Regions from separate parts of the Homo sapiens genome. Here all the other regions are linked to region 1. The links come from fine-mapping of genetic effects on gene expression. A gene starts in region 1. Each other region holds a variant in brackets. All regions are shown on one strand. Distances are from middle to middle.

What was found. PIP is the estimated chance that this variant, and not a neighbour inherited with it, causes the effect. A credible set is the group of variants that fine-mapping cannot tell apart.
Region 2: its variant is the best candidate, but not a certain one, in a credible set for the expression of RIPOR2 in esophagus muscle (GTEx, PIP 0.51).
Region 3: its variant is the best candidate, but not a certain one, in a credible set for the expression of RIPOR2 in testis (GTEx, PIP 0.78).
Region 4: its variant is the best candidate, but not a certain one, in a credible set for the expression of RIPOR2 in B cells (Fairfax 2012, PIP 0.52).
Region 5: its variant is the best candidate, but not a certain one, in a credible set for the expression of RIPOR2 in whole blood (TOPMed, PIP 0.59).
Region 6: its variant is the best candidate, but not a certain one, in a credible set for the expression of RIPOR2 in whole blood (INTERVAL, PIP 0.89).

What each region holds. Positions count from the first base shown.
Region 1 is chr6:24,933,994-24,939,068 of GRCh38, forward strand. It overlaps RIPOR2 (RHO family interacting cell polarization regulator 2), which reads right to left and starts at 1,967. Exons shown (of 22, transcript NM_001286445.3): 1 at 1,845-1,967. The coding sequence starts at 1,905. LOC105374981 (a long non-coding RNA gene) reads left to right here. Exons shown (of 3, transcript XR_007059514.1): 1 at 1-71; 2 at 253-377. RefSeq lists an enhancer at 2,680-2,849.
Region 2 is chr6:25,006,254-25,011,328 of GRCh38, forward strand. It overlaps a transcript of RIPOR2 not described here. Among named protein-coding and RNA genes, the nearest start is that of RIPOR2, 73 kb to the left of the region's middle. RefSeq lists a silencer at 2,813-2,965. The variant G/A (reference allele first, on the strand shown) is at 2,840.
Region 3 is chr6:24,897,854-24,902,928 of GRCh38, forward strand. All of the region lies in intron 1 of RIPOR2 (RHO family interacting cell polarization regulator 2), which reads right to left. Among named protein-coding and RNA genes, the nearest start is that of RIPOR2, 36 kb to the right of the region's middle. The variant G/C (reference allele first, on the strand shown) is at 2,888.
Region 4 is chr6:24,818,221-24,823,295 of GRCh38, forward strand. RIPOR2 (RHO family interacting cell polarization regulator 2) reads right to left here. Exons shown (of 22, transcript NM_001286445.3): 20 at 322-405. Among named protein-coding and RNA genes, the nearest start is that of ARMH2, 22 kb to the left of the region's middle. RefSeq lists a silencer at 2,694-2,822. The variant G/GT (reference allele first, on the strand shown) is at 2,964.
Region 5 is chr6:24,978,407-24,983,481 of GRCh38, forward strand. It overlaps a transcript of RIPOR2 not described here. Among named protein-coding and RNA genes, the nearest start is that of RIPOR2, 45 kb to the left of the region's middle. RefSeq lists an enhancer at 2,332-2,902. The variant T/A (reference allele first, on the strand shown) is at 2,948.
Region 6 is chr6:24,806,283-24,811,357 of GRCh38, forward strand. It overlaps RIPOR2 (RHO family interacting cell polarization regulator 2), which reads right to left. Exons shown (of 22, transcript NM_001286445.3): 21 at 3,435-3,525; 22 at 1-191. The coding sequence ends at 91. Among named protein-coding and RNA genes, the nearest start is that of ARMH2, 9.9 kb to the left of the region's middle. The variant C/T (reference allele first, on the strand shown) is at 2,563.

The sequences.
Region 1 (5,075 bases):
ATGGGGCCACGCATAATCCAGAGTGCAGTGCATCAGCCTATAGAGGGCGCTCTTAAGTATCATAGCCAGATGTAAAAGAGCAAAATTCCTATAGGCAAAGAAATGTGGGCTGGGCGTTTTGGAATGCCATTCCTGGAGGGAGGTGTGGGTGAATGATTGCCAATTTTTCCGTTCTAAGCTTATCTTCATAGTTGTGAGCATTTTTCAGGTCCTCAAAAGAGTTAGTATCTAAGTATAAATTTTCTCTTTAAGGTGTTTGCTTAAAGAGGAAACATCTTTAAGAAGTGAAAGCTGAAGAATGGGGCCTAAGATCAAACTTCAAGGTGTTGGTGGCCTAAACGCCTGCCATCAAAGTAACACAACAGAATGATAACTTGGTAAACAGCAGCGAAGCTCAATAGATATTCTTCAAATTGATTTAAGTTGTGATAAAAACCCAACTAATGATTTTAAATATTTCTGTAGCTAGAACAACATAGCAGAAAGACAACATCAAAATATTAACCATGATTACATTCTACATGACTAGATTACAAGGGGTTCTTTGCGACACTCTAATTTTTCTTCAGCGAACTTGTATTGCTTGGGTAATTACACATACACAAAAACCTTACTACTGTTCCTTTTAAAAAATTACTGAATAGAGTTTTTTAAAAAATTGCTAGACGTAGTTTCTTGCGGAAAATAATCAAATTCACGAGATTCTTGAGTCCAAATTTCCTTTATTTAGGTGGCTCCAAATTCTAAAAAAGCTTTTGCCTATAGCCCAATCTCATAGGCAGCATTTGAACAAAACATCCATCCAATGACTAGATCATCCCTTTAAAATCGCAACCTTTACAGTTAAATTCCAGTGGATAGGTCAAGTCATGGAAAAGCTGCAAGATGAGAACAGAAAACTGAGCAGTGCCAATGGGGATTGGAAGCTACCAGGGCTCCAGTATCCCGACTTGGGAAAAAAGAAAATTGGAAAAGGGAATGGAGGGTTGGAGTGCCAAGTATGTGTGAGGAAGAGTAAGAGAGAAGGACCCAGGCCGGGCATGGTAGCTCACGCCTGTAATCCCAGCACTTTGGGGGGCCAAGGAGGGTGGATCACCTGAAGTCAGGATTTCAAGACCAGCCTGGCCAACATGGCAAAATCCCATCTCTACTAAAAATACAAAAATTAGCTGGGCATGGTGGTGGGCGCCTGTAGTCCCAGCTACTTGGGAGGCTGAGGCAGGAGAATGACTTGAACCCGGGAGACGGAGGTTGCAGTGAGCTGAGATTGCACCACTGCACTCCAGCCTGAGCAACAAAGCAAGACTCTGTCTCAAAAAACAACAACAAAAAAAAAAAAAAAAAAAAAGAGAAGGACCGAGAGAAAGATAGACAGAGAGAGAGAGACAGAGAGAGAGAGAGACAGAAAGAGAGAAGTGCAAATCAAAGCAACATGGTACCATGAAAAACCACTCCTGGTCCATTTATTTAACTTCTTCCCTAGCAGCCCTGCTGTGCTCAAACCACTGTGACAGGCTTTCCTTAAGGTGTTAGACAAGAGATAGCACAGAAGAGAGACAAGGCAAAAAATTTAGTACTATTTTCCAGCCTAAACTAAACCTTTATTTTAGTCATGACTTTAAAAAATGTATTTGCGGGAATGACTCAACCCCTTGTTCCACCCCTTGCCTTGTGTATTCCTTCAGTGCCTAAGTTGATATTTGCAGCCACTACCTCACTCAGGATGCTTTGTTTTTATCATTTCAAAATACTCAAGTCCTTGCCCAAGCTGGGCAAAAGTGTCCAGTGGTGTCAAAACAAAGCAAAGCAGACCGGAGAGCCTCCTGCCAGAAAGATGCATTTACCTTCACCAAAAACATCATCCTCTTCATCGACCAGGAGCTCCTCAGCATCAAAAAACTGCATCTTGGAGAGGACAGGCGCGAGAAGCAGCAGGCAGCAGCCCCGGCAGTCTCAGCAGTCACACTGCCGACCGAGGTGATTTCCTTTCCTTGGGTTGCCCAAGCCCTCTGGAGGGCAGCTTCCGCATCTGCCCTGAAGAAAGCAGTTTCATTCATATGAATAGGCTTCTTGAGCCTTGTGAAGAGTGAATCCCAGGTGGGGTAATTCTCACCACTGAGGAGAAAGAATTTTTTGAAGAGGGCTGCAGATCCGGTTGGATATGAATACAGATATCACTCAAAGTCTGAATGCAATGAATTCTATTTCAAAGCAACAACTTTCATATTTCCTTAAAGAGGAAGGTGGGTGCTTAACTTTCTTGCTTATGAATTTGAACACAATGGGTTTTGTTGAAAGAGGGAGTTCATATTTCTCATATCTTGGTTTTGCTTCAATTACAATTTATCTGAAAGTAAAGCAAGCCACTATGTTAAACCAAAGCAGGCATTTAGAGGACAGAGCTTTTATTTTGCTCAGTAATAGTTGCATTTTTCTTTTCTTTTCTTTTCTTTTTTTCAAACCTCTTGCATTTAAGGATTGGAAACTTTACAGCATTTAAACCAAACTGAACCATATCTAGGCTTTATGTGGCTCGATTAAATCTATAGTCAATGAATAGATAACTGGTTTTGGTCAAACATCTTGCATTTCACAATATTTACTCAGTTTGATACTTCAGACTGTATCACTAAAGGAGAAAGAAGAAAATGTAACTCAAAAAGCAGTCCTCCCAAAGGGATGAGTGAACACTGAGCTTCTACGCGAGCACCATTGGCTGGCATCACCATATCGAGCTACCCAACGTGTGCCAAATTCTGTCTGGCTGCACAAACAAACACACATCTCTCTGAGTAATACTGAGACTTCATTTCGGGGTTTCCCAGAGCACTCCACTGTGTTGTAAGATCTCTTAGGTGGCCAGAAGCTTAGAAAATGCAAATGGAGATGACAGTGAGGAGCTGTTGACCCAAGGTGTTTATTTTTGGCACTTTATTTACTGCATGGTTTTGAAGATACTCCCAGTGTTACCCTAGAGAAACTGTCCCCTCCTCCTGTAACTGCAACCTTGAAATTGCACCATTTTCTCCCAGAAGAGACTGTGGACAACAGGGTTGGAGAAATCCAGCAGTGAGAAGGGATCACCCCAGAGGAATTCAGGAATCAGACACTGAGGGTTAACTGAGCAGCAACAGTCAGTTCATCCCTGCATTGGTGGCTGCAGCAGTTCCCAAAGACAGTGTACAGCTTGGGTCCTGCTGGGATCACCAATTGTTGTCAATCAGGGCTGGAACCATCCTTAGAGGAGAGCTTGGAAATGTCTGGGGTGTTTTGGGTGGCACAATGACTGGGGGTTATTACTGGTATTTAATGTCTTAGCACTCAGGGGCCCAGGGATATCAACCTTACCATAATGCATGGAACAGTAGCTCAACAGGAAGAACTGTCCAGCTCCAAATACCAATAATGCCCACCTTGAGACACACTGACAGGCAGAGAACTGGAGTTATCCTTTTCTCTAGCTCTCCTTTGCATCTCCCCTTTCTGACCCTTTTACCACCCCCTACCATGATCCCCACTTGAATGATGTTTCTGGACAAGGGTTGCACTTAGTTACATAAATTAAATTAATTAAAATGGGCCTAGGTGTAGGAAATTTGGATGTGGACTAAAGCTCTCTTTTGTGTGGTTGGGATAAGAGGATGGGTGTCCATTTTGATAATCACTACATTTCTCAACTACTGTCCTATGTCCTTTAATCTCCACAACTTCATGAGGTGGGTGCTATTATCCCATTTTACAGATGAAGCAATGGGGGCTCTGAGGGCTTGAAAAACATTCCTAAGATCAGGCAGCTAGTGAGTGGCAGATTTGACTAATTCCAGAGCTCACTCTGTTACCTCATGTCTGGACAACTTATGGGAGTGACTGCACACAGTCCAGTTCACTGCAGCATCCCCGTGGCTCTTGGGGACCTGCACTACCTCCCTCACCTCCCACCTCAGAACTACCTGGTTACCACGTGAACCTGAGGGCCCTAGCTATTCCACTTCAAAAAGTTAGCATAACCTCTGTAGGCCTGTTTCATTTTAAGTGGGTGGAATTGTGTCTCCCCTGTTGAATTCATATGTTGAAGTCCTAACCCCCAGTACCTCAGAATGTGACCTTACTTAGAAACAGGGCCATTGAAGATATAATTAGTTAGGATGAACTTATATCATATTGGAGGAGGATGGGTCCTTAATCCAATATGACTAACTTCCTCATAAAAAGGAGAGATTTAGACAAAGACATAGACATAGGGAGGATAGTATGTGAAGATGAAGGCAGAGATCCACAAGCCAAGGAACACCAAAGACTGCCAGTAAACCACCATGAGCTAGGGGAGAGGCCTGCAAGAGATTCTCCCTCACATCCCTCAGAAGAACCAATCCTGCCAACACCTTGACCTTGGACTTCTAGCCTCCACAGCTGTGATGCAGTAAGTTTCTGTTGCTTAAGCCACCCAGTTTGTGGTACTTCATTACAGAAGTCCTAGAAAATAATATACTTTCTCATTTGGCTTGTTTTGAGGATTAAGTAGGATAATTTATGTAAAGAAGCTGACACAGTACATGGTACACAGTAAATACCCAGTTATAATTATACGCCTAAGTCTCTCACAGGGACGCTTAGGATATTTCCCAAATTGAAGGCTCAATGGGGATAGAGAATGAGAAGTCACCACACTCCATATAAAACCTCAATAACCCTTAGGAAGTTTCCCTCAGTCTCCTCTTCTCCAATTTAGATATCTCAGAAACACAGCTAATCATCTCAAAGAACAAATCACAAATGCTACCACGAACTCCTTGAAAGCACAGAGGATAGAAAACATGGTTCTTGCTCTCCAAAGTTTACAATTACCTTAGAGAGATATGACATACATGCATGATGTGTTAACTAAAAAGAAAAATTAATAAACTACATATGCATGCATCAATATGGATGAGTTTCAAAAACATAATATTGACTTTGAAAGGTCTCAGAAAATTATAAATGGTATAATTATATTTATATGAGTGTCCAAAATGAGCAAATAAAAAAATGTAGGTAATCGCTAACACAGAGTGCCAGCAACAGTTTTAAGTGCTTTG
Region 2 (5,075 bases), 72 kb after region 1:
TTCATTTGTTCAATAAACATTAATTGAGCACCTACTATAATACCAGCCAGCACTTTACTAGAGTTAAAACAATGCACAAAAAATGGCATGGCCTCTCATGGTTCTCATGATTCTTATAGTCTACAGGGGAAGATAGATCTCAAACAAATAATTACTACTTTTTCTTTGAGGAATAAATTGTATTTGTCTTCAGGCCTTAAAGTCTCATCTGTCTTTTCAAATCTCTCTTGCCACCTCACCCCCACAAATTCCAATCTCCCTCTGCTTTTGTTCATTATTAAACCTTCATCACAATTCAAGTGAAAGGTGTCCTGGAACTCTCTGTTCTTTTTTTGAAGAGTTCATCCCCTGTGTCCTCCAGGCACAGGTGAGTCACTGAGCTGGGAGGTGGCTCTGTGGAGTACGGACTGTACCACCAAGTGGCCTTGCACAAGTTTTTGATAACACCTACCAGAGCCACGAGAGTTCTGAGAATTCTCCCCACAGGAAGAGGAAGCATTTGGAATAGGAAGTAAGACTGAGCTGCCAAATATAGCACAGCTATATAAGAAGCCAGGTTGAGAAAGAGGAAACATGCACTCTTTTCAGCTGCCAGGCAGCACTTTGCTTTGGGGAAAAACAAACAAACTGTGCCATGGCTGAAAGCCTAGAGGAGCTGGAACTCAAATGCTGTGTGGTGTGCCTGCTGGGACCCTGTGGCTCTGGAATGGAACGCTGTGGGAATCCCAGTGCCAGGCTCTGGGAGGGTCTCTTGCTCAACCAAAAGCAGGGAGAGTTCTCCATAACCAAGGGCCTGCAGCAATTATTTGATTAACTTCACCAAGTTTCTGCTCTGTTTTCTGTTTTGGCTATGGTGACATGGACTTTTGTTATTATTATTATTAGTCTTCTTAATACTGCTGGAGAGAATGGCCAGTATCTTAATATCTTCAATAGATAAAGAAAAGCCTATTAAAGGCAAAATACCATGAACAGAGGCTATTCTGTGTCTACACGGTAAGCTGGATCTTCTAGTCCACCTGAGTAGTGGCCTGCTTCTCAGAGGAGGTAACTTCTCTGATATTGTTGGTCTTATCCTGTGGGTTGAAGAAGTGAGCACAAAGGACCTGCTGATTCATTTTCACATTCTCATCACTGACACTGCCTGCTCCACCACGGGCGCTCAATACTATGACAAATCCTCACTTGGTCAATTTTGTGAATGTGACATACTGAAAAATGTTACCATAAATAAAATGAGTGGGTTTTCCCTATGTACATAATAAGCAAGATATGATCAAATGAAGTTTCACTTTACCAATATGCAGGCAATTATTATCTTTATAATTGTTACTTCATTTTCCTTTGGCCTCTCTAAAAGTCCTGTGCTCTCTGACCTTATTCTTCTTCCCCAGACACCTTGCACTCTTGGCCCTTCCTTCCTGCCCTCCCCATCTTCCTTCTCGGTGATCTTAGGCACCCCCATGGCTTCAACTGTATCATCTCTGTCAATAACTCCACATTTACATCCATGCCCAGGCTTTTCTCCCCGGCCCCAGAGCTGTTCTTCCAACTGCTGTAGACATTTCTACATTGATATCCGGGAGGGACCTCAAACACAACATACCAACAAATAAGCATGCTGTAGCCCCACCTGCCCTCACCCCTAGTTTGCCCCCGACCTCTATTTCCTATCATGTTTAGTGGCATCATCCCAGGCAACCAATGCTGGAAACACTGGAAATACCTCCAATGAAAATGTCAAATGGAACTGTTTCTGCCTTATTTTTATTTTTTAAAAATATTTTAAAACTATTTTTATTAAAATCAGTAGTAAGAATCTGCCTCATGTTTTACTGTGATGCCAAGACAAGCATGGTAGCTGAATGATGGTCCCCCAAACACATCCACATGCTAGTCTCTAGAACTGCATGGTGAAAGGGACTTTGCAGATATAATTAAGTTAAGCATTTTTTTTTTCAACCATGTTGGTCAAGCTGATCTCGAACTCCTGACCTCGTGAGACACCCGCCTCGGCCTCCCAAAGTGCTGGGATTACAGGCGTGAGCCACCGTGCCCAGCTAAGTTAAGGGTCTTGAGATGGGGAGATGGCCCTGGATCATGCAGGAGGGCCTGATGTACTCAAAAGGGTCCCCATAAGAGGGGTCAGTCAGAGAAAGAGATGTGAGGACAGTGGCAAAGGCTGAAATGCTGTGGCCACAAGCGAAGGTGGCTCTAGAAGCTGGAAAAGGCAAGGAAACAGGCTCCAAGCCTTGAGGGGAATGCAGCCTTTGAGTTAAGCCTTGTAAGATCCATTTTGGACTTCTGGCCTATAAGACTTGGACTTCTGGCCTATAAAACATAATAAAATTACACTGTTTTAAGCCACTATATTTTGGGTAATTTGTTACAGTAGCAATAGGACACCAATACAATAAGAGATTTCAGATATGAAAGGGAGCAGGAGATGATTTCCAAAGAAAGTGGCCTCTCTGACATCTGCTCCAAGAATAAAAGTGGTAGAAATTGGTCAGGATGCCAAGGAAATTTGATGAGGAGATAGGCAAGATGATGGCTCTGGAGGAGCCATTGGCATTTGTGGGTCTCCTTCCATTCCCTCTAGGGAAGTGCCAGGGTTGAGAAGCACTGTTCTTGGCAGTTCAGCAGGTGCTACTTTCCACTTGGTATATTGGGAAACTAAGCAGGGAGAGGTCAATAGCTTGCTTGAGCTCATGTAGCTTGTTAGGGATGAAGCCAGGACACTGATGCAGGATGGCTCTTGTCCATGCTGACTGCTGCCTCACCTCAGAGAAGGCAACAAAAGCAGAGACTGGAGCTCTAATTGATGCAGGGTCTTGCT[G/A]GTGGCATCCCACTGCTCTTGGCTTCAAAAGCATGGGCGAGTGATGTTGGTCTCGTGGGGAAAGGCAAGCCCCTCGCAGTAGGGAGCACAAAGGGAAGAGGAGCTTACTAAGACCAGTGTCAAAAACAGGAGAAGACCTGCTTCTGTAAGCAGGTCAGACAGAATACAGTGTTCTTTATCCCTTGCTTCTCTGCCTTTCAACCTTTATCTTGATTAGCAGTTTCTCTGAATTCACTTTCCTCTTTCTGGTAACTCAATCCTAAATACTCCAGCCTGAGTTGTTAATTTGGTCGATTAAACAAGAGAAATCCCTTAGAAATCGTCTTACCATTCTGAAGTCCATATTCCTCCAGAAATATTTACTTCTGCCAGATAAATACCAATGAATTCGTAGGAAATGTTTCCTCCATTTTAACTTTGATCAAACTTCATTCAAAACCATGAAACCAAAAGAAGAAACCACAAAGCTCGTTACCACCCAGATGGCTCCCAGCTTATGAATAAGTTGTATTCCAAAAGTTGGCTTGTAAATCAGCGGTTCAGTATGTATGGTGGCCTTTCCCGCAGAAACCGTGTTTTAAATGGTGGTCAAGTTTCAAGCTCTCCCATAAAGTCTATCTAACTCATGAGATAACAAGTAATATTAACAGATAATAGAATTCCAGAAATTCTTTATGATTATTTTTTGGGAGGAAAGCAGGATAAGGAAAGAACGATACTTCCTGTGGGTGGAGGTGGGGACTCAACTGTCTCCAAGCAAAGAGGCCACACAGCCTTCTACTGCCCTGGGCCAAGTGGGTTTTGTGGCCAGCAGGAAAGGCCCTGTGGTGTGGCATGAGGCAGGAGAGCATGGGAGAACGGATGCCCAGAAGAACTTCCAGGAGAGAGTTAGGAGGAAGTAGTTCAGAGAGACAGAGGATCAAGAACAGCTTCAAGAGAAGAGAAAACTGGAGAGGAAGCAAATGGAAAATGTTTACAGGTATTATAGTAGGTTATGAGTTTAATTCTTTTTAATGTTTGCTATAGTTTGAATGTTTGTCCCCCATTAACCTCAGGTTAAAATTTAATCCCAATGTTGGAGGTGGGGCCTAATGGAGGTGTTTGGCCATGGGGACAGATCCCTCATGAACAGTCTCGTGCCCTCCCTGGGGATGATTGAATCATCACTATATTAGTCCCCTCTTCCCACCAGAGCTGGTTGTTAGAAAGAGCCTGGCCCTCCTTCCTCCCCCTTTCCTCCTCTGTCACCCCATGAGCTCTACAGAGCTGGCACCCCTTCACCTCCCGCCTTGAGTGGAAGCAGTCTGACGCCTTCACCAGATGCAGATGCTGGTGCGAGGCTTCGTGTACAGCCTGCGGAACCATGAGCCAGATAAGCCTCTTTACTTGACAGATTACACAGTTTTTCCTTTAGGGCAAAACAAAATGAACTGAGACAGTGTCCTTCAAGAGATTCAAGTGAAAATTAGAATTATTTTAAAATTACTTTTTCTTGTTAGATGGCATTTTTTGACTAGAACTCTATACTAGGATTGGGCTATGGGAGCGCCAGGATTTATATGGGCTTTATAAGTAGGAGCCTGTGCTATAGATCCTATATTATTCAGGCAAGCAGGAAAGAAAAGATTTCCTTCCACTTCCACTCCGTAAACGTTTCTTAAGCCAACATTTTTTTAGTGCTTGCTAGGTCTCTGGTGCTACAAGGGACACTAGACAGGATGAGATACAAAAATAAATAAGATGGACTTCTTGCCTTTGAGGAGCATATAGGTTATAGGGGAAGACACCACTGCCAACAAATGATCCCCATGCGTGCTACACTAGAAGTGTGTGCAAGTAGCATAGGGACACAGATAAAGAATGGCTTCTCTGCCTGGGTGGTTGGGAAAGGTTGTTCTCTCTAGTTGGGACCCTGCTTGAGTCTGTCCCTTATATCTTCTGCCTTCAAATATCTTCCCATGTTACTTCATCCTGTTCTTCACTTTTTCATCTACAGAATCTATGAAAAAAAATTTGTTTTTACAATGACTCATTGGAAAAGAAGAATTTGGCAATGAGCAGTGGAGGGAGGCTAGGAATGCCAACAGAAATGGTGGTTACATGTTTTAATATTTTATAAATTTTATAAATTAGGAATTGGGTTTATATATATGTCCACATATGTATATGTACATGTAGGTATATATGTGTGTGCATGTATATAATGTGTGCATATATGTGTGTGCATTGTAATCAA
Region 3 (5,075 bases), 36 kb before region 1:
CCTCCAAGGCTCAAGGGATTCACAGCCTCCCAAGTAGCTGGGACTACAGGCACGCACCACCATGCCTGGCTGAGGCAGGAGAATTGCTTGAACCCGGGAGGCGGAGGTTGCAGAGAGCAGAGATTGAGCCATTGCACTCCAGCCTGGGTGACAGAGCCAGACCCTGAAGAAAGAAAGAAAGAAGGAAGGAAGGAAGGAAGGAAAGAAGGAAGGAAGGAAGGAAGCAAGGAAGGAAGGAAACATCAAGCCAAAGTGTAATGCTAGGCACAAAATATGCACTCAGTTAAATGACACCTATTATCCTATTATTATCATCATCATCACTAAGGTCAAAGGTAAAAAGACAAATGGCCTTACCTAAACAAAGCTTTGTGTTTTTATACTTTGCTGTGTTTTCCTACTTAAGTTGGTCTTACTAGAACCTATAATCTGAAGCGATAAGTTCTGGCACAGTAATATGATTATTATGAAGTTGTAACTCCATTGTCTAAGCTGGGGTCCTCTGTGAGGGGGTGTGGGGCAAGGAGGTAAGTCATCTTCAACTCACCCTGCTAATATTTTCTGCAGACAAAATCTGATTATGGCAAGTAAAGTTGCCTTAGATAAGTTGTATCACTTTTTCTCAAAAAAGGGCAATTGAGAGCCAAATAGAGATCTTCCTTTTTCTCTTTGTGAAATTTCCTTTGGTTGTCCTTTTTTGGATCTTTAGAGAGCTTGATGGAGGGATAAGAAAATAAGAATGAAGATCAATATGCAAGGTGTTGCCTCTTGAACTTCACTGCAATGAACTAGCTCAATTTAACCTCCCGTGTATACGTTCCCATATAAGACATTACTTTTACAATTCATCACTAAGGGAATGTGTCCTTTAAGGAACTGCTGTATTTTGTATGCCCATCTTTCTGCTAGCAGGAACTTAGGTGATAACTTCCTTTGTTCCCCTTTCTGCCTGGTTACAAGGAAGCTCAGAGTAAAATTTACTGCTCCGTCATAACAAAAACATATTTACTTTCTCTGGCTCCTCCTTTTGATACTGGTATTCTCCTTTCAAAATTGTTCATTATTGTAACCTGTCTCAACTCAACATCAGGGAGTAGTTTTTTTTTTTTTTTTTTTCAGTAAACTTGAACCACCTCTTAGCCTTCTCTCAATTACTAGGTGTGAGTTCAAAGAGGCCTTAGCAGCTATCTATTGCTTGACAAAAGTCACAAGGAAATTTCCACTGATGTCCATTCATTGCCCCATAATTTGTTCCAGCTGTTTGTTTCAGTTTTTGGAAGCCACTGGATCATGAAGGTTCAGGGACAATGTGGGAACAAGTAGTGTGATCATTACCGTAAATCTCCCACAAATCTTGATATAGGAAATAATTATCATTCTCATTGAATTATCCTCATAAAGGAAACTATACTCAGGCTAACATGGGGCCCATGAAGATAGCTTCTTTTGCACTGATTTGAAAAATGGGCACTTCTGGAAGAGATAACATATGAGTTAAGTCAGTGAATCACAGCTATTGTTCTGGAAATTATATTCAAATCTAGTCAGTCCAAATCTGAGAACTCTATTTGTGATGCAAATAAAAAAAATACTTCTACTTAGCAAACCAATGCAATTTTGCATATCATTCAGATTGGTTACCACTTTAAATCTTTTCTGATAGAGAGATAGAAGGGTAAACCATGCGTGAATTAACCACATCTGACGCTATTCATTTTCCTTCAACTGCAGGTAATTATCCTGCATAATTCTCCTATGCATAAATTAAAACTGCATGAATTAACAATGAGCTTGTTTTCCTACATTCAGTAATTAAGACAAAATTGATCAAGGGATACTTTACATGTGGGCACGGATCAGACAAAAGTCCTCACAAAAGAAAAGGAATGATTCCTTTTTTCTCTCAAGTTTGTTTTTTCTCCATTTTCCTCCCCTTTTGTGGGGTTGTTCAGATCTCTGAGGCGTCAATCGTTTGCAAGAGGAAGGAGAAGGCACGCCACTGATATGGCGTTATTTATCAGCATGCATTGCTTACTTGGAGAAAAAGTGCCCATTTCATTTCCTGATGATAGGGCATCTTTGCAGACACACAGCTTACCCAGCTGGAATAATGAACCTTTCAGATGGAGGATGTGAAAAATCTTCTTCTTGATTATAATAGAAGCCTGAAGAGTCTCATCAACGCCTTGGTATCAACTGAGAACCTCAGCCTACGTGGACAGTCTCTGTTTCGAGTTGCTAAGCCAAAAGATCTGGCAGCCACAACTCAGCTAAGTTATGTGGGAGAACTCGGGCTTTTTGAACATGCTACAAACTGGCAGTTGCTGTGGGAACTGTGGCTCTGAATTTGGAGTCTGTGTATTTACATCCACAGCCGCAGCACAGCCCAGACTCTGATGCCAGACGGCCTAGGTTTAAAACCAAGCTCTGCCTCTTAGTAATTTTTCAGAGCCTCCATTCTCTCATCTATAAAATGGAGTAATTACCTCAGGGTGTTGTGAGCACTCAATGAATTAGTACATGTGCCTGGCACATTAGAAATGCTATTTAGTGATAGCTATTACTTTTATAATAATATAAAACATGTTTATTTAGATTGGATGTTTCATTGTATGAGAAGCTTGGCCAGGCGTGGTGGCTCCCACCTGTAATCCCAGCACTTTGGGAGACCGATGCAGGGAGATGCTTGAGCCCAGGAGTTCGAGACCAGCCTGGCCAACATGGTGAAACCCCATCTCTACAAAAAATACAAAAATTAGCTGGGTGTGGTGGCATGAGCCTGTGGTCCCAGCTACTCAGGAGGCTGAAATGGGAGGATCGTCTGAGCCCAGGAGATCGAGGCTGCACTGAGCTGTGATCTGGCCGCCGCACTCCAGTCTGGGTGACA[G/C]AGTGAGACTCTGTAGTTTTCTGTCAATATGCAATATGAAATATGTGTACACATATCTGTGATTCAGAATTTGCATTTATGTGTTGTTGTTGTTGTTTTGTCTTGCTTTTTGTTGTGGTAGTTGTTGTTTTAAGAGACGGGGTTGTCAAAGCTGGACTTGAACTCCTGGGCTCAAATGATCTTCCCACCTCAGCCTCTGGAGTAGCTGGGACTACAGGCACAGACCACCACACCTGCCTTAGACTTCGTATTTATTTTTTGAAAATTTCGATGGCTTCAAACTCCTCTTGTGCCCAGGAAGGCCTTGCCTGTGTACCTACACTCAAGATCTATGATTCACCTAAAGGGAGATGATAGAGGGAAGGTCATTTTTACCATATGCAGAATCTTATGTGCCAGGCTTGGCCAGGCTTATACTCCCCCAGCTGGATTATAAAGGAGTGAAACTAGTCCCCTACACGAAAAACTATGCATCCTTTCAATAGGGCTTTTTTCAGTACCTTTAGCCTGATTACTGTATATTCACATTTATGAAAACATCTTGAGTTAATGCAGCCCCTTAGTCCCTTCCTGCTTTGGTTATTTTCTTCCATCAGTGAGGGAAAGAGCCATTTTGTGACAACCAAAGAACAAAACCAAACCAAAACAAAAACTACATCTGGAAAACATCCTAATGTGAAGAAATACACATTGAGGATCTGGAAAGAAAAAATGACCCTTAAAAAAGAAACACCACGTGCCATTTCTATCCTATTTTAGGCCAAAGACCATTATGACAAAATTCAAAGGGCAAACTTTTTTTGGAATGTCATGGGAGCCTGAAAAGGGAGCAATTCCTGACCTTTATGTCATTACAGGGGCAGGTTTCCATTTGCAAAACCAAGTGTCCAACTGAGGACATTAGTCGTGTTGTAAGAGAAAACGGTCATACCTCAAATAGGCCATAGTTTGGTGATTGAAGGGGGAGGGCAGGAAGAACAAATCACCTCTCCTCCCTCCAGAGAAACACAGTTTTTGCTGCCTCCAGGCTGGCTAAGTGGACCTCCCGGGGTGGAGAGCGCCCAGTGAGGAGTCAGAACATCTCAGTGCTAACCAGCTAATCCATTCGTTTGGTTTCCTAATTTGTGAAATTAGAGACATTGATATTACATCACAGGGTTGTTCTGTGGTTTAAATGAGACCATGGTTGTAAAAGTTGTTCAAAACTGCAAAAATCCACAGAGATATAAGGCACTATCACTGGGACTAAAGTATCGTGATGACTATTCTCAACTGGACCTTGAACTTAAACTTGAGGAACAGCAGACTTTAGGTATCAAAGAAGGAGGCCTGTGCAGAAGAGAAGCGGTAGAAAAGGAAAGACCAGCAGTCAACTGGCTGGAGGAAGTAAGGGATCGCCAGTTGTGGCAGAATGTACTGCAGGTGTCAGAGCATAGTAGTCAATCCAATTACTTTTTCTTTTTCTTTCTTTCTTTTTCTTTTTTTTTTTTTGAGACAGAGTTTCAACCTTGTTGCCCAGGCTGGAGTACAGTGGCGCGATCTTGGCTCACTGCAACCTCCGCCTCCTGGGTTCAAGTGATTCTCCTGCCTTAGCCTCCTGAGTAGCTGGGATTACAGGCACCCGCCACCATGCCCGGCTAATTTGTTTGTATTTTTAGTAAAGCTGGAGTTTTACCATGTTGTCCAGGCTGGTCTCGAACTCCTGACCTCAGGCGATCCACTCGCCTCAGCCTCCCAAAGTGTAGGGATTACACGCGCAAGCCACCGCGACTGGCACTTTTCCTTCTCTTTTTCTCCATCTCCTAAGTGGGACCCCAATTTGAGGACACTTCCTGAAGTAAGGTTTGCACTACCTATACTTGCTACATTGAGACAGCTCTGCTTTGAAAACAAGTTATTTGGATTCCTGTTTGTTCACATGCTAGATTAGCCAGTTTGAAACTAAACTCCTTCTCAATGGTACCAACTCCACTTTCCCAAATCCTCCCCCGGCAAACAAACCAAAATGTGCAACAGTTTGCTTCTAATATACAATTTAAGAATGGGTTTCTTAGACCAATGTTCTGCAGGAGGAGAAGGTGAGCTTTAGATTTGGCTGTTCTGTGACTGCTACTATCATGTTATTTACCTCACAGGGAAGAAATTTGATAGGAATAACACAACACTGTGGTCATATTTGACCTTTTTC
Region 4 (5,075 bases), 120 kb before region 1:
CCAAAATGCTGGGATTACAGGCATGAGCCACTGTGCCGGCTAATAAGATGTACTTTTCTAATACTGACCTAAAGGCAAACTGGTTCCCTTGGGCTAGTGCAAAACATGATTGCTTTCTGCCACTTATTGACTTTAACAAAACAAAGTCACATGTAATTACTGTTTAAGGGAGAAAAATACTAAAACTAACATACGGTGCAAAGAAGACAAGAAATACTGCTAAAAAAGTACTTTCAAACATGAAAGAAAAGCTGTTATATACACTCAGCTTAGCCTGGCTCCAAGCTGAGCTGCCAGGGGAGCTCCAAGGCTGGGCTTTACCTCAAGGATTTTCAGAGCCAGGCAAGCTGCTTTCTGGAGCTGGAGGTTTGTCTTTGTTAGTGCTTCACAGTAATAGAGCAAGGCCTGAAAGAGAAGGAGGGACCTCATGAAGGCATTTTGGTTTGTTCGTAGTTTAAGAGGTATACCTCATTCTTACTCTCTGAGATAAACTATAGCATATAACCTACACATTTTGCACTACCTTCAGAGCAAGAAAAAAAAAGCCATTGAAATTCATATTAATTAAAAGAGTCGTTTATTCAATAAATTGATCCCTTATGTTCTCCTAGATCTACTATGACTCTAGGAGAACATAAGGGATCAATTTATTGAGTAACATAATGACCGTGGGCTTTTATTGGCCACCTAAAGGTAATTTTTTAAACCAAGTAACGAGGAAGGCAAAATTTCTCAGAGCTGTTTTTGATCCCAGATCATTAACTTTTTCTTTTAAGGTGTTAATCCCTTTCTTTATGTCCCATCATAAAGGCCTGCAAGCTCCTGCCCCTTGTCTCATGTGTCATTCCAAGATTTGAAATATTCTCCTAGAGTCCATGACTCTAGGAGAATATAAGGGATCAATTTATTAAATAAAATTGGGAGAGAGTTATGATTCTGGCTTTTAAGGAGCCCTTAGATGTAGTAGAAATGCTAAGACTGTTTAGAAGGAACTGAAGAGAAGAAATGTATTAGGTCCCATAAGAAATCTACAAGGTAAGTCAGTCACTTGGAGAAGAGACATCTTACGGAGTGCCAGGGTAAGTTTCACAAAAATGTTTGAACTGGAATGGAAATGATGGCTTAGATTTCAGTAGGGAAGTTGATTGAAAAAAAGGTATTCAGTCAGAAATAAGGAAGACAGGAGGAGGCAGTACATTCCAGTGAGGAGGGTGGTAATGTCAGTTTGAGATTTGCTGAGTTTGATACATGGCAAATGAATGCTCTGTTTAAAAAATCTCTGCATAAAAGTACATTATCTTTTTTTTTTTTGAGACAGAATCTCGCTCTGTGGCCCAGGCTGGAGTGCAGTGGTGTGATCTCGGCTCACTGTAACCTCCATCTCCCGGGTTCAAGAGATTCTCCTACCTCGATTACAGGTGCCCACCACCACGCCCAGCTAATTTTTTTTTTTTTTTTTTTTAGTGGAGACAGGATTTTACCATATTGGCCAGGCTGGTCTTGAATTCCTGACCTTGTGATCCGCCCACCTCGGCCTCCCAAAGTGTTGGGATTACAGGCGTGAGCTACTGCACCCGGCCAATTGTCTTATTTTTACCAAGCTAATTTCTTCCTAAATGGTTGATAAAATGTGTAGTACTTAACATTAATTCAAATGAATAAGAATCACTATATGTCATATTGGTTCATAGGAAACTTAATTACTCTTGAAGAGAATTGAGGGTGGAAAGAGAGGACTAACTTTTGATTTTGTTGGGCTATATTGTGCATTTCTTGCTATTTGTCTGAATTACTTTTATTTTCTATTTTTATTTATTTATTTATTTTTGGAGATGGAGTTTCACTCTTATTGCCCAGGCTGGAGTGCAATGGCACAAACTTGGCTCACTGCAACCTCCGCCTCCCGGGTTCAAGCGATTCTCCTGCCTCAGCCTCCCTAGTAGCTGGGATTACAGGCGGATGCTATGATGCCCAGCTAATTTTTGTATTTTTAGTAGAGACAGGGTTTCACCACGTTGGCCAGGCTGATCTCAAACTCCTGACCTTGTGATCCGTCCGCCTCGGCCTCCCAGAGTGCTGGGATTACAGGCGTGAGCCACTGCACACGGCCCCTGTTTTCTCAGTTTTATAGGACAATTCCATTTAAAAAAATTGAAAATATAATTTATATACCATAATATTTAGACTACAGCATGTATAATTCAATGGTTTTTAGTATATTCACAAATCATCCCCATCATCTGATTTCAGAATATTTTCATTACCCCAAAAAGAAATCCTGTACCCATTAGTAGTCATTCCCAAGACCCTTTCTCTCCAGTCGCTGGCAACCACTAATCTACTCTCCATTACTATGGATTTGCCTACTTTGGACATTTCATATAAATGAATTCACACAATATGTAGCCTCCTATGTCTTGCTCTTTCATTTGGCATAGTATCTTCAAGGCTCATCTAGGTTGAAGGATGTATTAGGATTGCATTTCTTTTTATGGCCAAAAAATATTCCATTATATGGCTAGACCACATTTTATTTATTCACCAGTTGATGAACCTTCAGATTGTTTCTACTTTTTGGTTATTATGAATAATGCTGCTATGAACATCTGTGTACAAGGTTTTTTTGTGTGGACATATGGTTTAACACTCTTTTTTTTTTTTTTTTTTTTTTTGAGAGAGTCTCTCTTGGTAACCCAGGCTGGAGTACAGTGGCACCATCTCAGCTCACTGCAAACTCCGCCTCCTGGGTTCAAGCCATACGCCCACCTTAGCCTCCTGAGTAGCTGGGATTATAGGTGCCTGCCACCACACCCGGCTAATTTTTGTATTTTTAGTACGGATGGGGTTTCACTATGTTGGCCAGGCTGGTCTTGAACTCCTGACCTCAGATGATCTGCCCTCCTCAGCCTCCCAAAGTTCTGGGATTACAGGCGTGAGCCACCGCGCCCAGCCAGTTTAACACT[G/GT]TTTTTTTTTTTTTTTGAGATGGAGTGTTGCTCTTGTTGCCCAGGCTGGAGTGCAATGGTGCAATCTCGGCTCACTGCAACCTCTGCCTCCCGGGTTCAAGCGATTCTCCTGCCTCAGCCTCCCAAGTAGCTGGGATTACAGGCATGCTCCACCATGCCCAGCTAATTTTTTGTATTTTTAGTAGAGATGGGGTTTCTCCATGTTGGTCAGGCTGGTCTCAAACTCCCGACCTCAGGTGATGCGCCCGCCTCGGCCTCCCAAAGTGCTGGGATTACAGGCGTGAGCCACAGTGCCCAGCTCTGTGGCTTAACACTCTTAAAGTTTTAACACTCTTAAAGGAAACAAAGATATGCAGTATAGGTTATTACAGCAAGAACAAAAGCAGTAACAGTAACTAGCTCTTTACTAGACCTAAATAGTTAGAGCCTGGGCTTTGGCTTTTGAAAACCTCTCTCTGGCTTGCCTTTTGGCCTCTACTCACTTGAGGGTGAGCAGCCAAAAGGGGAGGAAATAAGCCTCAATCCACAAGTGGGCAGCTACACAGGGACTAGCCTCCAGTACAAAAGGAACAAGGTGACTGTCCCTGAAGTGCCACTTGCCATCAACCCCCTCCAAAGCTACCATTTCCAGAGGTGGATATACACCAAGGTCATCTTTAGCATTTCATCCCTATTGAAGCATTGTTATAATGCAAACATGCCCGAGAGGAAGGACAATTTAAGTTGTGATCACCCATTTAAGTCTTGGAATATGTGGTTTTGGTAAGGGGTAAACCTATGGTTTGATAGTTAGCCTTCAAGTCCCTTGATATGAGTAAAAGAGGGAAATGGCAGGAGTTCAAGGCTGTAGTGAGCTATGATTGCACCACCTGGGTGGTGCATGTCCAGCTTGTGTAACAAAGTAGGATCCCGCCATTAAAATCCAAAACAAACCTGAGAGACAGAGAAATGGGCAGGGGAAAATAGAGAGGAGTCTTGTGCTGAAGTTCATCTACTTTATAATTTTAACAAGGGCTGGCCCTGGAGGTCAGAAACCAATCGATGGTGTCTGTGCAAAATGCTGAGTCATAATTCATTTAGTTTGATTATGTTGGTGGAAATATTTGTCTCCCTCATTTCAGGAACACAAATATTGTAACCATGTGTGTAAATATATCTGAAAATATCAATTCACTTGTCCCATGAAGAGATGACTAGGTACTTGTTAGGTGCCAAGCTAACATGCTAGGTGATAGGGCAAACCTGTCTATGTTAACTTCAGAGATGATAGCTGACCCTGTTAATTTTGGGGTTACTGAATAGGTTGCTCACTTTACGTATTTATTTATTTTTATTTATTTATTTATTTTTTGAGACAGAGTTCTTGCTCTTGTCACCCAGGCTGGAGTGCAATGGTGCGATCTCAGGTCACTGCAACCTTCGCCTCCTGAGTTCAAGCAATTCTCCTGCCTCAGCCTCCCGAGTAGCTGGGACTACAGGTGCCCACCACCACGCCCAGCTAATTTTTTGTATTTTTAGTAGAGATGGAGTTTCACTATATTGGCCAGGCTGGTCTCGAAGTCCTGGCCTCAGGTGATCCACCCGCCTCGGCTTCCCAAAGTGTTGGGATTACAGGCGTGAGCCACTGCGCCCGGCCTATTTATTTATTGTTAAATGCCTGTTGAGTCATAAGGTTGCTCACTTTAGTTTGAGTGGTTGCCTAAGAATTGGTGGCTGCTTAGATTCATAACAATTCCAGGAAGCAAACAGAAGGCACATTATAAAGCCAGAAGCCCCTGTCACCATGCAGAGGCCACCAGCATCTCCTCTGACCAGTCCTGGATAATTAAAGAAGCAACCACATCTGAATGCAACAGTATAGTTGGAGGACAGTGGATATTTCCTACTTGTCTAGGTGTGGGGAAAAGCATAAAATAATGAACCAACACACACAACTTTTATTTTGTCTCAATAGCTATGATCCTTGAAGCAAGGTTCCGGGTTTACAGTGACACCAGCTCTCACAGAGGCATTTTTGTGTTGCTTTAGTGCTTTGCATCTAGTTTTAAGAACTTAATGTAATAACTTTTGCTATTCCATATAAGAAAATATGGAAAGGGTTCAGGCTTTGGG
Region 5 (5,075 bases), 44 kb after region 1:
TATATCACTTTAAGTAACTACTTTAGGATCAGGGTCTTATTTATACCAAAGGTCTTTGCATGTAAAAGCCAGTTGGCTCAACCAAATGGCCAAGAAAAGATGTCCCCTTCTCTCCCTAACCTCCATGTATCTTCTCATACCAGATGGTACAATCTCTGAAATTCCATCTTCAGAGGGTTATTATTTAGGGTTAAGTTTGATCCTTTTTTTGGTCACTAATGCTTCATGGTGAATGGAGGTTGGGAATATTGCTCTGCGATAAGACTGCCTAGGTTTGAATCCTAAATTCTACTTAGTTGTGAGGCCTTCGGCAGGATATTTAATCAATCTATCCTTTAGTGTCCTCATTCATAAAATGGGAATAATTTTTGTTCCACTGTCATAGGGCTGTTATAAGATTTAAATAGATGAAACATGTAAATTCTCAGTAAACATTCATTCCTACTTCATCTGGTGGGAGAATTTCAAAGCCAAGTGAACACCTCAGGCCAAGATGTGAAAAGGTCCCAGAATGGAAATCGTGACAGAATGCTAGTGATATAAACCTCACCTACTGCATATATTAGCTTAGGCCTGGGGTGCACACTACTGAGACTCACATATTTTTGGAGAAAGGTTTAACATTATTTTCTCTATTTCATGAACTACTTCCTTCTCATCCCCAACTTCCTTTTATAATTGGCCTCTCAACATTTTCTATCACTCCTTATGAGATAATGAGAAACAATGGGCTTAACTTTCCTCTCTCAGCTGTCGTGCATCCTATCTATAGGTTGCAAAGATCCCCTCTCTGCTCCACTCCCACTGGTCTATTCCTGGGAAAACCGAAAACCAAAGAAGGAACATGCAATAGTTGCTTGAAATGATAGGGAAATTCTTTTTTTTTTTTTTTTTTTTTTGCTGTTTCCTTAGCCCTGACATGACATTCCTTTTCTGTTTTTAAAAGACACAACACTGCACATTAACTGTCCTGTGGGAGAGACCACACCCTCTTCCAAGTCATCCCAGTCCACATCAGAAATGTGTCTTCTGCAAACCTGACACAAAAAGCTCCCCATTTTGAAAAGGTCCTGATAGAATTAATATGAATTGAATCGCATTCTTTTTACTGTAACCAACTATCTGGTGTTAAAAAAGACTTTTGCAGAATTCTGGGCAAGAATTATTAATGCATGTTAATGGGAAGCCTCCAGTTCTGCTTTGCTGGGGAAGGAAAGGCCAGCTCTCACAACTTCCTCCACACCATGTTGGGACCCAGAGCCAAATAAATGGTCCATCTGTCTTCCATATGATGAGTTTCAATTTGGAAAATTCAAGGCTAGTTTGAGTTATTGGAAGCAAGTTGGTGGTATAGCATGACAATTAAAAGCACAGGTTTTAAAACTGACAAATCCGGGTTCAAATCTCCATTTAACTACTTACTGCCTTTGTAAGTAACCAGTCTCTTAGCTCTGCAAGATACAAATAGAGATACATCCTTCATATACATTAAATGAAGTTATGTAAGTAAAGCATCAAGCATATAGTAGGAACTTAATAAATTATACTGCTGTAGGTTGGCTAGTGACCATGTTTTTGACCACTAAATATAACACCGTAGGAAAGGAAGCAAGTGGAAAAGGGACAGCCCATACTTACAGAAGCCCAGGTTAAAGCCCTCTGCTAGGATGCATTAAAGAATCTCATCTTAGATAGGCTCCTCAGCCTTGAATATTTAATGCAATCCAAGTTTTCTCTGCCATTCCATAAACTCAGCACTGTTGCTTCTAGAGCCATTGAGAAGCTGCTAAGAATCTCAATAAACACCATGAATGACTTTAAATTACTCTCCTTTCAGCTTTGTCCAGATTCAGAAATTACAAAGCAATAATGTGCTTCCCGATTTATCTACTGAAGTGATATGAGTTGCGCCTGTTATAGTGGGAAAGCTTCCTTGGACATCTATATTTTCCCATATCACCAAGAGGGAGTGAAATCAAGACACCTGGTCATCTAAAATGTGACCTAACATACTCTTTTACAGATACATGCATTTTTATATAAATGGATTTTTAGAATAGTACTGTGTATTCCCTGATGTGAAGATAAGTTCATGAGTAAGCCTGTGGTTTCCATCTCTCTCCTTGCTCTTGTCAGAGCCGTAGGTGCAACTATGGTTTGTGAATTAGGAAGGCAGTTGGCCCCTCACACCTATATGGTAAAGTGTGAATGAGGAGTCATGTGTACACAGAGCTCTGTAACTCTCCAGGTGCACAGAAGCACCTGCCACATCCCCAGGTGCAAGTGGGTATAAAGGCAAGTGTGTTGTGGAGTCACAGGGGGCTTTTGGGCATTGGTGCTTTGCTCCACTCCCATCTCCCTGCCGCCAAATCATCAGAGGCTTCCTCTGGCCTGATACAGCTGGGCTCTGGGAAGGTAAGTGAGCTTATCCAGGATGGGAGCAGAGAAGGTGAGTGAAGCTGGACAGAAACAGAGGAATGGAGATTGGGGCACACATGCTTTCTCTGGCTCTCTGAATGAACACATTCATTCATTGTCCCAGTCTTCTATCTCAAATTCCTCTGCTTTACTTCTCTGTGGGATAACTTTCTCCACCTCTGTAGGAGATGCAAAAACAAGGGTGGGTCTCAAATAGTTGAAATTCTTTTCTATGTTGCCACTGCTTTTGCTCTCCTTCATTTGAACAAAAGGGTGTAGAGTTTGGATGAAAACCAACAGGGTTATAAAGAATTTTATCTTTGGATAAGGCTTTCAAGGGCTGCTTTCTATGTCCTGTGAGCCTAGAGTTGCCTCGTGGGTAAGTAGAAAGCACTTATCAACCCAAACAAATATTTTCCCAGGTTCCCTTCCCCATAGAGCCATAGTGGATACTAAAATGAAAACAGTCAGCATTAATTCTTGCTTACCCTGCGCACTTTTTCTTCTGTAAAGCAGGAGGAATTCTGAA[T/A]GTAGGGGAGGAAAGAGATAAGTTTGAATGACAAAGACTGAAGCCTAATGGAGGGAAAGGCTTTCTCTCTCCACCTCTAGGGAACATTTCCTTGCCTTTGGCATCTGCTGCCCACCTCCTGACCCCCACAGCCCCCACTGCCCTGCATCTGATTATGCTAGCCAGCTAGGCCTTTCCTGAGCTTGCTCTGGTTCCGGAACTGGGAGTATAAATCTGTACTCAGTGGGCCCAGGGTCTCCTGGCCAGCCCTTCAACTGATTAAGCCTTGAGTCACCCGCACTCTGGTATGTTTCGCCTTAGTGGGTAACACTATAGACTCTGGAGCTATATCATCCAGGGTCGAATTCCTACCTCTGCCACTTGCTAATTGTGGAAGCCTGAGCAAGTCACATAACCTCTCTGTTCCACAGTGTTGTCATCTATGAAATAAAGAGTATAGTAACAGCTACCTCACAGCCTTGCTGAAGGGATTCAATGAGGTGCTACTTGAAAGAGATTTAGAAGGGTTTCTGACAAAAAATTCAATAAATGCTAATTATGTTTATTTACGCCTAACATGGCATAGAGAGGAAGGGGGCTCACCTTGTCCCTTGGCACTGCAAAAGCAGAGTTTGGCAGACCTTTCACAGACCCTGAGCTGGGCCTCCCCTCAACTTTTTGCCTTATGAGGAATGGACTGATGAAAAATGACCCTAATCCAAGGTACTTGTCTCAGTAGCAACCTTTTAAAGATTAATAATGTTTTAAGAATCTCTAACTTCTAAGAGATCTCTTTTTTAAGTAATAAAAGAAAACATGTTTGTGGTAAAAATCCATATATTTTGTCCATAAAGTATAGAAAATGAAAACCAAAAGCATTTCTCAAAATTCCATTTTCCAAAGGCTGTTAACAATCATTGGCTTTGTATAAAGCAAAATAAAGGAATAATAGTTTTGTTTGGTTGTTCTACTTCCAGGATCCACATTCTTTTAGTTCTGCTGTCTATTCAAACAAAATGAATTATTCAGTAGTTTGTGTGACTGAATGTGAATGAAATTAATTTAGTGCAGATTTCTTTTTTAGTTTCTAGGTGACTCAGCTTGCCTTGTAACTATTGCCCTAGTAAGATTCATTCTCTGCTGATGTTTCATTTTGCTAATTACATATTTCTGAGGACAAGTGAGCTTATCACTTATTCAGGCACCAAATATTTATTAAGCCAAGAACATTTTTTTCCTTATATTTGAGCCCAATGACTTGCTTACTTTGTGGCTTCCTAAGAATCAAATAAAAGTAGTTGGCTTATGTGCCTATGCTTCTCTACATATAAAATGGGTACAATATATTCGTTTGTCAGATAGTCATAATAAGGTCCTAATAAATGTGAAATACCTCCACTAAAAACGATCTAATATTAAGAAAAGAAAAATAGCTCAGAGCAGGCTGCATTATGTAAGGTATGCAAAATTTACCTGGCCCAGAGAGACAGGAGTATGGGATTTCAGTTACACTGGGAACCCCTTTCTTTGCCTGGGGAGCACTTGTTTAAAGACATGTTGTTATTTCTTTTCTTCCCTGCCTCACTCATTGTCTTCATGTTTCTGGAATTTGTGATACTAAGACCAATGTACAGCCAATCAGTAGCTTAGGTTATTTTAATGTGAATTCTTGGTAAACAATTTAGGAACTACCTCTTCTTTTTTCCTTTAAAAACCTGCTTGTAACTGCTGCTAATTGGAGGATCTACTCAGGGGACTAGAATCTATGCTCCTGGGTTGTTGCAGTCCGCAAACTTGGCCCAAATAAACTCTCTACTTATGTTAATTTTGCCTCAGGTTTTTTCCTTTAGGTTGAACACGTACACACACACACACACACACACACATACATATATACACACACACACAGGCACACACATATATATACACGTATACATATATATGTATATATGGCCTCACTACTGAGGCTGTATTTCCAGAACTTCATCTTTTTAAACAAAATGACTAATCGTAATATATGTGTATACACAAGGCAAGTATCATACAAGCTTTGGAATCTGATCTGGGTTCTAATTATGGCAAAGACAGCTAGTTGTCCCCCAGTACCCATTCTCCACTTATCCCTTAATATTAAAGCCCTGAGGCCAGG
Region 6 (5,075 bases), 130 kb before region 1:
AGGCTCTAAACAATTTCCAGCCCAAACCACAGCACCATCCTGATGAAAAGGGCCAGATATTAAGACAGCTGTTAGGCAGTTAACCTGTAATTAAAAGGCTGTGGCAACTTCAGTTCCATGACGACCTCCGACTTTAACACAGTCTCGAGGAAATTTGTCCAATTGTTCATATGCCAGCCGCCCATCTTCTCCTAAATACAGAACATTAAACATGAATACCAATTCAAACAACGTTTTTATTAATTACTCAAAGTAACATAGTGCCATTTGTTTAGGGATGGGTTGCTATAATATGCTATGCTAACTTTTGGTAAGGAAAAGTTATCTTTTGTTATTCCTAATTATGTCATTGTTTTCCAGGTAATGCTTAGAACAACCAAGAACTTTTGAGCTAATTAATGCCAGAGACCAAAAGAATGCCAGGGTATGAAACAGAGTAGAAGTCTTATGGCCATTTGATGTTGATGATTTCATATAATCGATTTATTTTAGAGCAATTGTATGGATTATATTTTAAGTACATTAGGGATTTCAATATGGCTAATGCACTGAACTTTTACATAACTTTTACTTGTATACATTATATATCGATACATCTAAATGATATGTGGTAAAATCAATCTTAGGCTTTCAAACTTCAGCTAAAAATTACTTTTTACTATGTAAACATACAGAGATGCCTTCTACCAGCCACCAGCTAGTTCAGTTTTGTCCGTAACGCCACCTTGAACAGTTAGGATGCAATTGCAAATAATTTTAATGTTTTGTTCTATTTTTCTACTTTAAAAAATGATTTAGAAAATGAGAAAATAAAATGCAAAGACAAGTGATAAGAAGCAGGCTTTCATACATGTAATGCAAGTGAGACAAAGATGGAAATAGTTGTGCCTAATCAGAAGTTCAGCTGGGTGTGGTGGCTCACACCTGTAACCCCAGAACTTTGGGAAGCCAAGGTGAGTGGATCACTTGAGGTCACGAGTTTGAGACCAGCCTGATCAACACAGTGAAACCCCATCTCTACCAAAAAATACAAAAAAAGAGTTAGCTGGGTGTGGTGGAATCCACCTGTAGTCCCAGCTACTTGGGAGGCTGAGGCAGGAGAATTGCTTGAACTCGGGGGCAGAGGTTGCAATGAGACGAGATTGCATCATTGCACTCCAGCCTGGGTGATAGAGAGAGACTCCATGTTTAAGGTAGGCTAGGCTAAGCTATGATGTTCTGCAAGTAAGATGTATTAAGTGCATTTTTGACTTAACAGTATTTTCAACTTACAACGGGTTTATTGGGATGTAACCCCATTGTAAGTCAAGGAGCAGCTATCCTCAAAATTGAGTAAACTTAAAACTTCAGTTCCTCCATGGTGGCAAAGGTGAACAGCCCAACAGCCATTTAGGATGGCTGCTGTCATACTGGACAGTGCGCATATAGAACAATCCCATCACCATGGAGGGATCTGTTGGACAGCTCTAGGTTAAAATGTCGAAATCATTCCATACTAGTTGGTAAATAGTTGCAGCCCTGAGTCCTTTAAGTGCCCGCAATGACCTTCTGCCCTTTGTCATAGGGCATTTTATCAATTCCTATTGAAAATACTATCCTCACTATATTAATTCAGTCATTTGTGTAAGAGAAAAATGTGCCAGTATTTGTGTATTAGGGTCAAAGAAGATTCATAATATTGACTTCAGGGGGGTCTCAAACTTTATATTAGAATCACCTGGGAGGCTTCAAAAAATCCTTAAAAAATCCTGATGCCAAGGAACACTTAGACCAATGAAAGCAGAATCTTTGGGAGTAGATTGTTTAAGCTTCCCTGGCAAATGTGCAGCCAGTGTTGAGCACTGCACACTGGTGGTGTGAGAGGGCCCAGGGCTGATATGAGCAGTGTGCATGAAGAGCTAAGGTGAAGCAGGTATGGTGATGGCTTCTGGAGATGCTGCTGTTTGCACAGCTCCAGTGAGGCCCGGGGCACATTCTGTAGGATCAGCTTCCTTAGGTTACACTGGAAATAGAAGCTTCGTTGGCTATGCTTTATAAGCGCCTGGCTTACCTTCATGGTTATTTTAGAATATGAAGGGATAAAGGAGTTTAAACTAATAATACCTTGGTACATTTTTAGAGAATTAAATAATTTCTATGCCTAATACAACCATAAGGAATAACTTTTATTCTTTAAACAAATATATACTGGCTAAGATTTCTGTGGAAGAAATCATATATTCAATAGCAGAATGAAGCCTTGTTAAACCCATAATTGTAAGAAAGAGGGCCTAACAATAAATGGGATTTTCACAGTGATTATAAATGCCATGAGATTCTTCTTCATGTTGTTAAGTTAGTATCACTAAACAAGGGTAGCTTTTTTCTAAGCTGCAGTATTGATTGGATTATGTCTGAGGATTTCTAGGAGCATAGTTTTTATACTTTAAGATTGTGTTGTTGAAGTAAAATTATTTATAATAATTATTTATACTTTTTTCTTTTTTTTTTTTTTTGAGACAGAGTCTTGCTCTGTCACCCAGGCTGGAATACAGTGGCATGATCTCAGCTCACTGCAACCTC[C/T]GTTTCCTGGGTTCAAGTGATTCTCCTACCTCAGCCTCCCAAGTAGCTGGGACTACAGGTGCACCCCACCACACCTGGCTAATTTTTGTATTTTTAGTAGATACATGGTTTCATCATGTTGGCCAGGCTGGTCTCGAACTCTTGACCTCAAGTGATCCACTCACCTTGGCCTCCCAAAGTGCTGGGGTTACAGGGGTGAGCCACCAAACCCAGCTATTTATACTTTTTAATACAGAGTTAAGAAAGGCTTTCCCCACCCTCCCAAGTCCCCAAAAAAGAATAAATGTATAATGCCTGCTAGGCATGAACCTTCATAAAATAAAGTGAAGAGGAAGGATTATCTGGATATTTCAGAATAAAATAAGTACTCCAATTCTTTTCTTAGGTATCAGGGCTCAGATGGGCAGAGGCCACAGGGCAGTCAGAGGTTAACCTGGGAGTCAGGGTGAGGCTGAGATACCTGGGGATTTACAGCATTCCCTGGGATGCATCTCTGGTACCTCACCCAATTTCTGTCCTCCAGGGAATGTCAACCCCACCTGGCAACACAGCCTGGATTCCTATTGCCTTTGCTTTATGGTTTGACTTCTGTGTTCTTGATTCTAAATAGTACACAGACTGATCAATCCATATAGAAAGTCTCCAGACAATATAGTTCACTCTCAGCATCCAGACAGAACAAGGAGTTGGGGTGAGATAGACACTGATCAGTTCTTCGTACTCTGTGTGTGAGAAGACAGCCTACAGCGGGGAAACTGCTAAACAGGGTACATGAAACTTCTCCTTACTGGAGAAGGGAACATCTAAATGGGAACATCCGTTAGAGAGTGCCAGAAGCAAACAATCATGTAAACAACAACAATAAAACTCACCCAGAGACAAGAGGGTTTCTGAGGCCACATTTCTGATTTCTTCAGTATCAGATTGACACAATGTCACCAGCATTTTAATGCTTTCAGTAGCCTATGGGGGAAAAATAGGTTAAATCGTGTTTTGACATTTAGGTCTAGAGTACCACGAGACTTGGCATTTCACAACTGGTGGGAACTTTAGCCTCACTTTGTTGCCCAGGCTGGAGTGCAATGGAGCAATCATAGCTCACTGCAGCCTTGACCTCCTGGGCTCAAGCAATTCTCCTGCCTCAGCCTCCTGAGTAGCCAGGACTGATTTTTAATTTTTAACCTTTGGTACAGATGAGGTCTCACTATGTTGCCCAGGCTAGTCGAATTCTTCTGCCTTGGCCTCCTAATGTGGTGGGATTACAGGTGTAAGCCACTGTGCCCGGCCAGCTGGTAGGAATGCTAAAAACCACTTTACCTATGGGGTCAAACCTAGCTGAGTGTCTGAAACCCAATATTCCTGGGTGCCACTCCGGATGCACTATATCAGAATTTCCTGGGATGGGGCCCAGAGTTCTTACTTTCAGGAATTCTGATGATCAGCTAAATTCCTCATTCCACAGCACACTCCTGGTCTAGAGGAGTGAAGTGACGAGCTTGCTTTTCCAGAGTAGAATCCATTTTCCCTGGTTCTTTCCACTGAATCTCACTGATTCCAAAATGGCTCTAATTAAAAAATTCTTACTATTTAGTTTATATGCTAAAATAGAGGAGGAGGTAAAGGCCATTAATGACAATTCTTCTATTTGTTTGTTCCACAAATATTTATTGAGCACTCCATGAACCAGACTATTCATAAGGCATGAGAGATTCCACAGTAAACCAGACATGGTTCTGGTCCTCAAGAATTTACAGTCTAGTGGATTCAGAGTATGAAAACCCATGCAGATCACTGTATCCTTATGTCTTTATTTACTTTGTCTGTATCACAGACATCTGTCACTGATATATCACTGGATATCAGGAAAGCACCCAAATAGCAATCACTGTGGGCTTTCTATTTGGGCACCTGAAGGTAATTTTTTTTTTAACCAAGTAACAAGGCAAAATTTCCTACAGCTGTTTCTTTTTTTTTCTTTGAGACAGAGTCTCATTCAGTCACCCAGACTGGAGTACAGTGGCGTGATCTTGGCTCACTGCAACTTCTGTCTCCTGGGTTCAAGCGATTCTCCTGCCTCAGCCTCCTGAGTAGCTGGGATTACAGGTGTGCGCCACCACGCCTGGCTAATTTTTGTGTTTTCAGTAAGGATGAGGTTTCACCATGTTGGCCAGGCTGGTCTCAAACTCCTGACCTCAGGTGATCCACCGGCCTCAGCCTCCCAAAGTGCTGGGATTACAGGCATGAGCCACCATGCCTGGCCCTAGAGCTGTTTTTGATCACAGGCCATTAACTTTTTCTTTTGAGGTATTAATTCCTTTCTTTATCAGGCCTGCAGCTCTTTTCCAAGATTTTGGCAAGTTCTAAGGTGTGGCCTTCTCTCATTCTTTTTTTTTTTTTTTTTTTTTTTTTTTGAGATGGAGTCTCTGTCGCCCAGGTTGGAGTGCAGTGGTGCAATCTTGGCTCACTGAAACCTCTGTCTCCTGGATTCAAGCGATTCTCCTGCCTCAGCCTCC